2 separate regions of the Homo sapiens genome follow, and region 2 is linked to region 1. The links come from fine-mapping of genetic effects on gene expression. A gene starts in region 1. The other region holds a variant in brackets. All regions are shown on one strand. Distances are from middle to middle.

Region 1 (5,196 bases):
AAATTTTGCTGAGAGAGAGGCTTGGGGCAAACTATTCCCACAGGATACTGGGGAGTACATTTGTGGGAAGCCACCATTGAGCTATTTTGTAAATATTTTGAATTTCATAAAGCTTAATATTTTTCCAACCACCGATCTGCCTACTTTTTACACCCAAGTGTCCTGTAGAGGAAATTTGATCTACATATTTTGCAGTTCTTTATACCCCAGCCATTTAAAATGATATTTAGCAATAGTTTGTTTTAAGAAAAAAAAAACAAAACACAAAAAACTCCAAGACCTCTCTCCAGTCTTTTGTCAATAATCTCTTTCCCCAATTTGGGAATCCGCTTCTCGTGAGTTAAATCCACTTGACAAAATTTAAAATTCAACTTAGTGATATTATTTAATTTCCTATAACACTTTATGGCTAGTGAAGCACTTTTTCATACACCATGTTTCAGGCCTAGCCAAAGAAAGAAAGAAAGAAAGAAAGATCTTTCAGTGTATTTCTTTCTTTCCATCCAAAGTTTGTTGAACATTTAGAAGTCAAGCTCTGTGTCTGGGGAGGTTATAGACCATTTGAATGTGTATTATGAGCATATTTGAAGATGTGCATATTTTGCATCAAATGAACATTCGCTGACAGTTCCCCACTCTGTCTCTCTGATCTCGAGGGGGCAAATGCCCTGGAGAAGAGAGAAGTGATGGGGATGAGAGTGTGATTTCTATGAGGGCAAGAACCCTGTGTAAATGAAGTAACCATATTAAATTGGAAATCAGTGGCTTGCTATTTAGAGATAGCAGAAGATCTCCCAGTTTGCAGGCTTCAAAACTTCCAATTTGTGATCAAACAGTTCCATTTAAATGGGGTAATCAGACAAAACCCCCAAAGCATAGAAAAGCAAATCAATTCAATTGTTCTGTTTAGATATAGACAATGCCTGGAGAGCAAACCATTACAGCTAAGAGAGATCTTTAAGTGAAAGAAAAGGAGAAGGCTCCATTTCAGCTTATTAGGTAAGAAACATAAGGAAACATATATACAAACAAAAAACAAAACCAAAAACCCAAGCAAACAAACAAAACAACAAATACCAAATTAGTTTTCTACTGGCATTTCCTTTTGTGATGGTTGCAGCATCCCAAGAGGGGTTTTGTGCTTTATTAGCTGAAGTAAGAGAATCCTAGGCTGAAATGGACTTTGGAAGGTTTTACTCTGTCTTCAGAAAAGCTTTCATTCTAAGTATCCTAGAAAATAACTCTCTCATTATCTTTCTCTTTCTAGAAGTCATCAATAACTTGTTTTTTTCCACCTAGGAAAGTTGTAAGTGGTGAGTAGCTACTGTTAGGTAGCTACTGTTAGGAGTGGCAAAGTAGGCTTCTCATGCGTATAATACTAATGATAATAGCTGCAATTTTTTTGTGCTTACTAAATGTGCCAAGCATGCTAAAATACTTAAACAGATACTATTTAATTCTCAAAACCCACAAAGCAGGTATGATATGATTATTACCCCTTTGTAAAATGGGGAAGCTCAGAGCACAGAGCAAGCTCAGGTTGTCTGATTTCCTTTTGAGCAGTGTGATCTAACAAGGTCAAGAGTACTGCTGCTTCAAGTATTACTGTTGCTGTGTTCCCTGCATTATACAGAGGACTTGAATTTGTCTAATGTCTTGCCTGGGAAAAGCAGCTCAGTTCTCTCTGAAAAGGAAAACCCAAGACAGAAAGCGTGGATGTGGAAGAAGGTAAATAAACGCCACCAGTTGGTCAGTAACCACAGAAGCTAACAGTAGATCAAATTCTCATTCAGGAGAGGTAAGCTTCTCTTGTACCTATAATAACTTTCAGAAAAAACACATGTCTGGAAAAGTGTGGAGGACTCACCGATATTGGCAGTGGGCTGCTGTCAGCACCCACTGTGGATCAATCAGAACACCTCCACAAACGTGATGTCCGCCATACTGGATGGAGGCCATAAATGGCCTGGAATGAGGTGACACTTCTTTCCCTCCAATAATTTCCATATTGAAACCTACAAAAGTAGACCAAAAGGTTTCACACAAAAGATCTAAACTACTGTTTCATGTAATTCTTCCAATGACAGTCACTATATTATTTTCAAAGCTTAAAAAACAACAATAACCCTACCTAAAAGCTACAATAATTTTACTGATGAAAAATTTGTATAATACATTACAGTTCAGAAAGATAGGAATGATTGTGAAAATAATTTTCATCTATAATATAACAATATAGTCAGTAGAAATTCATTTAATGTTTACATGTAGATATAGGAGATACTTACACACATGAGTCATATAAGCCCCAACTATTAGGAAAAACAGAGAAAAGGAAGAAAACTTAGTCATTTTAAAGATTTAGATTTAAGAAGCCCAGATGAAATGTGTTGATCCTGTGATGAAGGAAGAAGATTCTGAAGACTGAGTTTTGTTCTTGTAAGTTTTGACTTTCTCACCACAGGTGCTCTAGGGGTAAGATTTTTTTTCACACCTAGGTGTAAACGTTATGTATCAGTTTGGGGACTTTCAGGTCTGTGCTTTTAGCACTTTTTTGTTTTGTTTTGTTTTGAGACGGAGTCTCTCTCTGTCGCCCAGGCTGGAGTGCAGTGGCGCGATCTCGGCTCACTGCAAGCTCTGCCTCCTGGGTTCACGCCATTCTCCTGCCTCAGCCTCCCGAGTAGCTGGGACTACAGGCGCCCACCACCACATCCGGCTAATTGCTTTTAGCACTTTTTTGGGAGAGGTATGTATGCCATAAAGAACTCATATCTGGAGATACCATCTCTAATACCTGTATCAGAGTACTTATGCTATAAAGAAAATTTATACTATATGTGTATATAATATTTATAAATGAAAAATATCCATGCCATAAGAATGTAATGAAGTTGCAGACAGAGTTCAAAGATGTCCATTGCTCTCAAGCAATACTTACTATTTTTCCTGGCACAAAATGGTGCCTATCATATTTCATTCTTCTCTCTTTTTCATTTGGACATAGATTTATGATGAAGAGAGACATGGACCTTGCACAGATTATGGTTACTTCACAATGTGGCTTAGCTAAAGCCTGAGCACCAACCAGAGAAAACCATATGTTTTGCAGCAAACATCCCTACTCATGTCGTTTCTCTAAGTTTGCCCAAATTTGGTTAAATTTTAGTTACATTTTTGTGAGATTTCATAATGTTGTTAAAGGTGAACATTGGCAACTATTTTTGATTCAGAGTCTCTCTTTTACTCATTTTTAATTGAAAATGGCCATGTGTTTTTCCAGGGACTTAATAATAATGTCTTTTAAAAATAAAGGACTGCATTTTGTAATTCTTCCCAGGAACAGATGACAATGCATTGCCAGGCCTTCAATACAAAAGGTATTAGACTCAAGATTCTACAAGATTCTGTTTGTGCCAGACACTGATCAGCAGTGCAAATATAAAATGAATACAAACAGATCACGCATCAGAATGCCAATCACTTCCTAGTAACACTGATCAAAATTTGCATTAAATCAACAGATCTTTCTTTTAAGAGGTATGCATTTTATCTTCCATTCATTTTAGAAAGGAGAATTAAAATCCAGAGCTATTATGCTCGGCAGATTGCAAGAGACTCCTTTCAAATTGTTTTCTAGCACAAAGAGTAGGAATAATAAAAAATAATACTATAATTATGTATTATTCATTATAACTTAATAATATATAAGTAAAATACCTTATTTCCAAAATTCTTTTTATATGATCATTTATGGTTTCATGTCTATGTCTTTGAGGAAAGCAGGACAACTTATGTTACAATGGAAGAAATAAGTTCCAAGAGGCTAAGTAATTTGCCCAAGGCAACACAGCTTATGACCTAGACCAAATCACCTGCCTGACCTCCCTGTATGTTAAGTTGTATGTGAATGAGTACCCTCCCAGAACACAGAATTTTATAAAAAACCTGCTTTCCTTGTACAGGTGTGTGGCAACAGTAAAGCTTTCTACATGTTAAACAGAATGAACAAAACCAACGCAGAGCAGTGACTTCCTGTCAGAGCAGAAGGTGAGATAAGGAGGAGCCAGATTAAGAAAAGCCACAAGCTTAATAAACCAAACTTATTACTCCCACTCAAATGTCCCTGTGAATTTTCAAGTCATCTTTGTCACTGTTGATGTACCTTGGATGCTCTACTGTGTGCCATTGTTCCACATTGGAAGGCAGACAGGATGGCGTCAGTTCCCTGCTACATCCCAGTGATGCTGGGATCGTAAGGAAGATGGTGTGTGACAGGTAGAAGTGATCCAAACTCTAAGGAAGAAATAAATTGTAAAGGACGAAGCTTTGTGTGTGTGTGTGTGTGTGTGTGTGGCGGGGGAAATGGGAATGGTTACAAACATCTCTCAGCTGCTTATTTCTGAGTAGTAAGGATTAATGTCCACATAGCGTTGTACAAATTGCTGAACGTTTTTAGCTGTATTTCCAGGGAAGTGGTTGTCATTAGTCTTGTTTTATGGATAAATAAACTGAAATTCAGGGACTTGCTTGAGATTACCGAGCTAGCAGGTGGCCCTTAAGCTCCTATGTGCTGGCTCCCGGCTCTATGTTCCTTTCAACCTGGCTACATGCCTGCCTCCTTTGAGAAGTCCCTGGGGGTTTAGGGGCTCTGAGACACAAGCTAGCTGTGCAGAAGAGAAAAAGGATTTAGCCATACACACTGCGTGTAATTAGACATGGGTGAGATTTAGTTCAGTTGGGAAGAGTCTCATAACTCTTTCTTGTAGCTGACCTAGAAAATTCTGAGAATCATGTTGGTTAATAGTAATGAGTTATTTGGTTTTGGCTTTAGACCGATTTGCCAGTTAATAGTATCATTTGTTATTATATTCACGATTCTGGATTTGAGAACAGTGGGCTGTGTAACATGATGAGCTCGGCGATCTAATTTATTTCTGGGTGTTGGTTTTTGTTCTGTTGAGTCTGCTGCAGGGAGGGCCATGTTTGCTTTGGATGGCTTTACAGCAACTGTACCGGACTGAGCAAGTGCAAGGCTGTGCTCAGAGGAGGGCTGGCTTCACACGTCATAGCCTTGTGGCTCTTCTTTGCTGTGTTTAGCTGTCTTTCTTGCTGCTCTTAGAGATGTTTTGTTTCTGCTTCTCCTGTGTTTCAGGAGACCCTTATAGAACAGCTGTGCCACTGCTCCAAAGGCCTCGT
Region 2 (5,196 bases), 22 kb after region 1:
CTTCTGCCCATTTCTCTCTTAATAAACAAAATGAAGTTTCAATATCTGTCTTTTAGTTCCCTCCATGCTTTCTGAAATTTGCCAAAAAACACAGAATTACCAGAACTGGTCAAATCGATTCAAGATCAAATTTGGAAGCAGGTGATGAATCCTGCCATCTCCACTCTCAGTGTTTCTGTTTCTCTGAACAGTCCTCTTCTGCAAGGGTTTAATTGTCAGCAAATATCCACCAACATCTCACTGCTCAAGAATAATTTAAAGTGTTGTCACTTTTCAGTGTATTCTCATTTTATTTAGTGTTTCTTAAATATTAAAAAAAATTGAAGATTCAGAGGAAGGATTTCCACTGATGAGATGCCCAGAGTGATGACAGGGATGGAGATAGTTTGGATTGAGAATATTCCTTGTTCCTGTTAAATCACACCACATGGGCATCACCTGCTTTGAGTATGTAACAATCTGGCACTAGGCATGATGTTTTGTTTTTGCATGTTGTTGGGTCACAGATGAGCCAGAAGCCTTTGTGTGGTTGTTGCCCGGGGATATTTAAAACTGTCACACTGGAAGGACTAAGCAAATGCATTTTCTGCCCAATGTGTATGTATGTTATGCGGAAGATGACTAGAGAAATATTTTAAAGTTTGGATTTCAGTCAGAAAGTACTATTTTCACTAACATCAGTTTTAAACACCTCTCTGAAGAAGCAAAGAACCTAAAGAGTGAGGCCCCCAGGCAGAGGATGGAGCATCCAGTCTACAGATTGCATTCACATGCACATATACACATGCACACATGAGCGCACACAGGTATACAAGCCATTTCCAATGTAATAAATAGTAAGACTAATGGAAGTCGGGCAGTAGCATAGCATGATGTTAGGGAAGAAGGTCTAGTCCCAGAGTGGCACTTCCCCTATGTTCCTAACTTGCTTTAAGAACAAAGTCTTCTGGAGTCAGAGTCAGAAAAATGTCCTCGTGACTCACTCAATAGGACCCAAGGACCCAAGCCAGCAGGTTACAGTACTGGCTGATATTATGCAAAAAACAAAAACAAAAACAACCCAAATCAAAGCCAAGAATGCTTGTTGTGGAATCCAAACCGAAGTGCTCAAAGTGTTCTATAAGACAAGGAAGTTTTCAATAACTCATAATTCAGGGAGGAAGGAAAACTCTTCTAGCAGACAAGTCACGTTCCATCCCAGACATCTAGAACACTTCCATTGTTTATTCTTAAGGCTTTTATTCCCAGATGTTGTTTTGTGAATGTGTCAGAAGAGATCCAGGGAAGGGAGACTGCTGATGAGGCAGATTATGTGCATCCAAATGACCAATACACTTGCAGAAAAGGGTCAGAAAACTGATGGGAAATCTCTGGGTCAAAAACTAGCAGATGGTAAACCTATCTTCCATTTTAGAAATAACTTTTTGGGGGAAATCCCTTCATTTTCAAATTTTAAAGTAGTAATAACAATCACTGGCAACAATTGGCACCCTGAACTATATTTTCAACTTACTAAATAAAGATTACTCTTCTGATGGGAAAACAAGGAATAAAAGAAGCAGGCAGCCAGCATTTTGCCAAGTAAATCAGAGCAAAGCCAAGACTCCGTAGCAATTTAGCAATGAAGGCTCAATCCCTGCTGAAATTTATACTATAGAGAGAGAGTCAAGTAAGTCCCGGACATAAAACAAGATCAACAAGGAACATACATAGAAGGATTATCAGAATGTGGGCAATGCAAGTAAGAGACGAGAGATAATTCAGACAAATCTACAACAGGGATTATTCTTTTATTTATTTATTTTTTAAATTATACTTTGAGTTCTAGGGTACATGTGCACAACGTGCAAGTTTGTTACATATGTATACATGTGCCATGTTGGTGTGCTGCACCCATTAACTCATTATTTACATGAGGTATTTCTCTTAATGCTATCCCTCCCCCTTCCCCACATCCCATGACAGGTCCCGATGTGTGATGTGT[A/G]TTGTTCCCTGCCCTGTGTCCATGTGTTCTCATTGTTCAATTCCCACCTATGAGTGAGAACATGCAGTGTTTGGTTTTCTGTCCTTGCAAGAGTTTGCTCAGAATGATGGTTTCCAGCTTCATCCATGTCCCTACAAAGGACATGAACTCATCCTTTTTTATGGCTGCATAGTATTCCATGGTGTATATGTACCACATTTTCTTAATCCAGTCTGTCATTAATGACATTTGGGTTGGTTCCAAGTTTTTGCTACTGTGAATGGTGTTGCAATAAACGTACGTGTGCATGTGAATTTATAGTAGCATGATTTATAATCCTTTGGGTATATACCCAGTAATGGGATGGCTGGGTCAAATGGTATTTCTAGTTCTAGATCCTTGGGGAATCGCCACACTGTCTTCTGCAATGGTTGAACTAGCTTACAGTCCCACCAACAGTGTAAAAGTGTTCCTGTTTCTTCACATCCTCTCTAGCACCTGTTGTTTCCTGACTTTCTAATGATCGCCATTCTAACTTGTGTGAGATGGTATCTCATTGTGGTTTTGATTTGCATTTCTCTGTTAATCAGTGATGATGAGCATTTTTCCATGTGTCTGTTGGCTGCATAAATGTCTTCTTTTGAGAAGTGTCTGTTCATATCCTTTGCCCACTTTTTGATGGGGTTGTTTGATTTTTTCTTGTAACTTTATTTGAGTTCTTTGTAGATTCTGGTTATTAGCCCTTTGTCAAGTAGGTAGATTGCAAAGATTTTCTCTCATTCTGTAGGTTGCCTGTTCACTCTGATGGTAGTTTCTTTTGCAGTGCAGAAGCTCTTTAGTTTAATTAGATCCCATTAATTAGATCTATTTTGGCTTTTGTTGCCACTGCTTTTGGTGTTTTAGTCATGAAGTCCTTGCCCATGCCTATGTCCTGAATGGTATTGCCTAGGTTTTCTTCTACAGGTTTTATGGCTGTAGGTGTAACATTTAAGTCTTTAATCCATCTTGAGTTAATTTTTGTATAAGGTATAAGGAAGGGATGCAGTTTAAGCTTTCTACATATGGCTAGACAGTTTTCCCAGCACCGTTTATTAAACAGGGAATCCTTTCCCCATTTCTTGTTTTTGTCATGTTCAGCAAAGATCAGATGGTTGTAGATGTGTAGTGTTATTTCTGAGGCCTCTGTTCTGTCCCATTAGTCTATATCTCCGTTTTGGTACCAGTACCATGCTATTTTGGTTACTGTAGCCTTGTAATATAGTTCGAAGCCAGGTATCATGATGCCTCCAGCTTTGTTCTTTTTGCTTAGGATTGTCTTGACAATACGGGCTCTTTTTTCATTCCATATGAATTTTAAAGTAGCTTTTTCCAATTCTGTGAAGAAAGTCATTGGTAGCTTGATGGGGATGGCATTGAATCTATAAATTACCTTGGGCAGTATGGCCATTGTCACAATATTGATTCTTCCTATCCATGAGCATGGAATGTTCTTCCATTTGTTTGTGTCCTCTTTTATTTCATTGAGCAGTGGTTTGTAATTCTCCTTGAAGAGGTCCTTCACATCCCTTGTAAGTTGGATTCCTAGATATTTTATTCTCTTTGAAGCAATTGTAAATGGGAGTTCACTCATGGTTTGGCTCTCTGTTTGTCTGTTATTGGTGTATAAGAATGCTTGTGATTTTTGCACATTGATTTTGTATCCTGAGACTTTGCTGACGTTGCCTATCAGCTTAAGGAGATTTTGGGCTGAGACAATGGGGTTTTCTAGATATACAATCATGTCATCCGCAAACGGGGACAATTTGACTTCCTCTTTTCCTAATTGAATACCCTTTATTTCTTTCTTCTACCTGATTGCCCTGGCCAGAACCTCTAACACTATATTGAATAGGAGTTGTGAGAGAGGGCATCCCTGTCTTGTGCCAGTTTTCAAAGGGAATTCTTCCAGTTTTTGTCCATTCAGTATGATATTGGCTGTAGGTTTGTCATAAATAGCTCTTATTATTTTGAGATATGTCCCATCAATACCTAGTTTATTGAGAGTTTTTAGCACGAAGGGCTGTTGAATTTTGTCAAATGCCTTTTCCGTGTCTATTGAGATAATCATGTGGTTTTTGTCTTTGGTTCTGTTTATGTGATGAATTACATTATTGACTTGCATATGTTGAACCAGACTTGCATCCCAGGGATGAAGCCAACTTGATTATGGTGGATAAGCTTTTTGATGTACTGCTGGAGTCGTCTTGCCGGTATTTTATTGAAGATTTTTGCTTCGATGTTCATCAGGGATATTGGTCTAAAATTCTCTTTTTTTGTTGTGTCTCTGCCAGGCTTTGGTATCAGGATGATGCTGGCCTCATAAAATGAGTTAGGGAGGATTCCCTTTTTTTCTATTGATTGGAATAGTTTCAGAAAGAATGGTACCAGCTCCTCCTTGTACCTCTGGTAGAATTTGGCTGTGAATCCATCTGGTCCTGGACTTTTTTTTGTTGGTAGGCTATTAATTATTGCCTCAATTTCAGAGCCTGTTATTGGTCTATTCAGGGATTCAACTTCTTCTTGGTTTAGTCTTGTGAGGGTGTATGTGTCCAGGAATTTATCCATTTCTTCTAGATTTTCTAGTTTATTTGTGTAGATGTGTTTATAGTATTCTCTGATGGTAGTTTGTATTTCTGTGGGATCGGTGGTGATAACCCCTTTATCATTTTTTATTGCATCTATTTGATTCTTCTCTCTTTTCTTTTTTGTTAGTCTTGCTAGTGGCCTATTTTGCTAATTTTTTCAAAAAACCACCTCCTGGATTCATTGATGTTTTGAAGGATGTTTTGTGTTTCTATCTCCTTCAGTTCTGCTCTGATCTTAGTTATTTCTTGCCTTCTGTTAGCTTTTGAATGTGTTTGCTCTTGCTTCTCTAGTTCTTTTAATTGTAATGTTAGGGTGTTGATTTTAGATCTTGCCTTCTTTCTCTTGTGGGCATTTAGTGCTATAAATTTCCCTCTACACACTGATTTAAATGTGTCCCAGAGATTCTGATATGTTGTGTCTTTGTTCTCATTGGTTTGAAAGAACATCTTTATTTCTGCCTTCATTTCATTATTTACCCAGTAGTCATTCAGGAGCAGGTTGTTCAGTTTCCATGTAGTTTGGTTTTGAGTGAGTTTCTTAATCCTGAGTTCTAGTTTGATTGCACTGTGGTCTGAGAGACAGTTTGTTGTGATTTCTGTTCTTTAACA

The links. PIP is the estimated chance that this variant, and not a neighbour inherited with it, causes the effect. A credible set is the group of variants that fine-mapping cannot tell apart.
Region 2: its variant is the best candidate, but not a certain one, in a credible set for the expression of GZMK in whole blood (INTERVAL, PIP 0.77).

Annotation. Positions count from the first base shown.
Region 1 is chr5:55,021,479-55,026,674 of GRCh38, reverse strand. It overlaps GZMK (granzyme K), which reads right to left and starts at 2,419. Exons shown (of 5, transcript NM_002104.3): 1 at 2,289-2,419; 2 at 1,868-2,015. The coding sequence starts at 2,352. LOC102467081 (a long non-coding RNA gene) reads left to right here and starts at 2,506. Exons shown (of 3, transcript NR_104662.1): 1 at 2,506-2,746; 2 at 3,963-4,047; 3 at 5,153-5,196.
Region 2 is chr5:54,999,692-55,004,887 of GRCh38, reverse strand. No RefSeq gene overlaps it. Among named protein-coding and RNA genes, the nearest start is that of ESM1, 17 kb to the right of the region's middle. The variant A/G (reference allele first, on the strand shown) is at 1,985.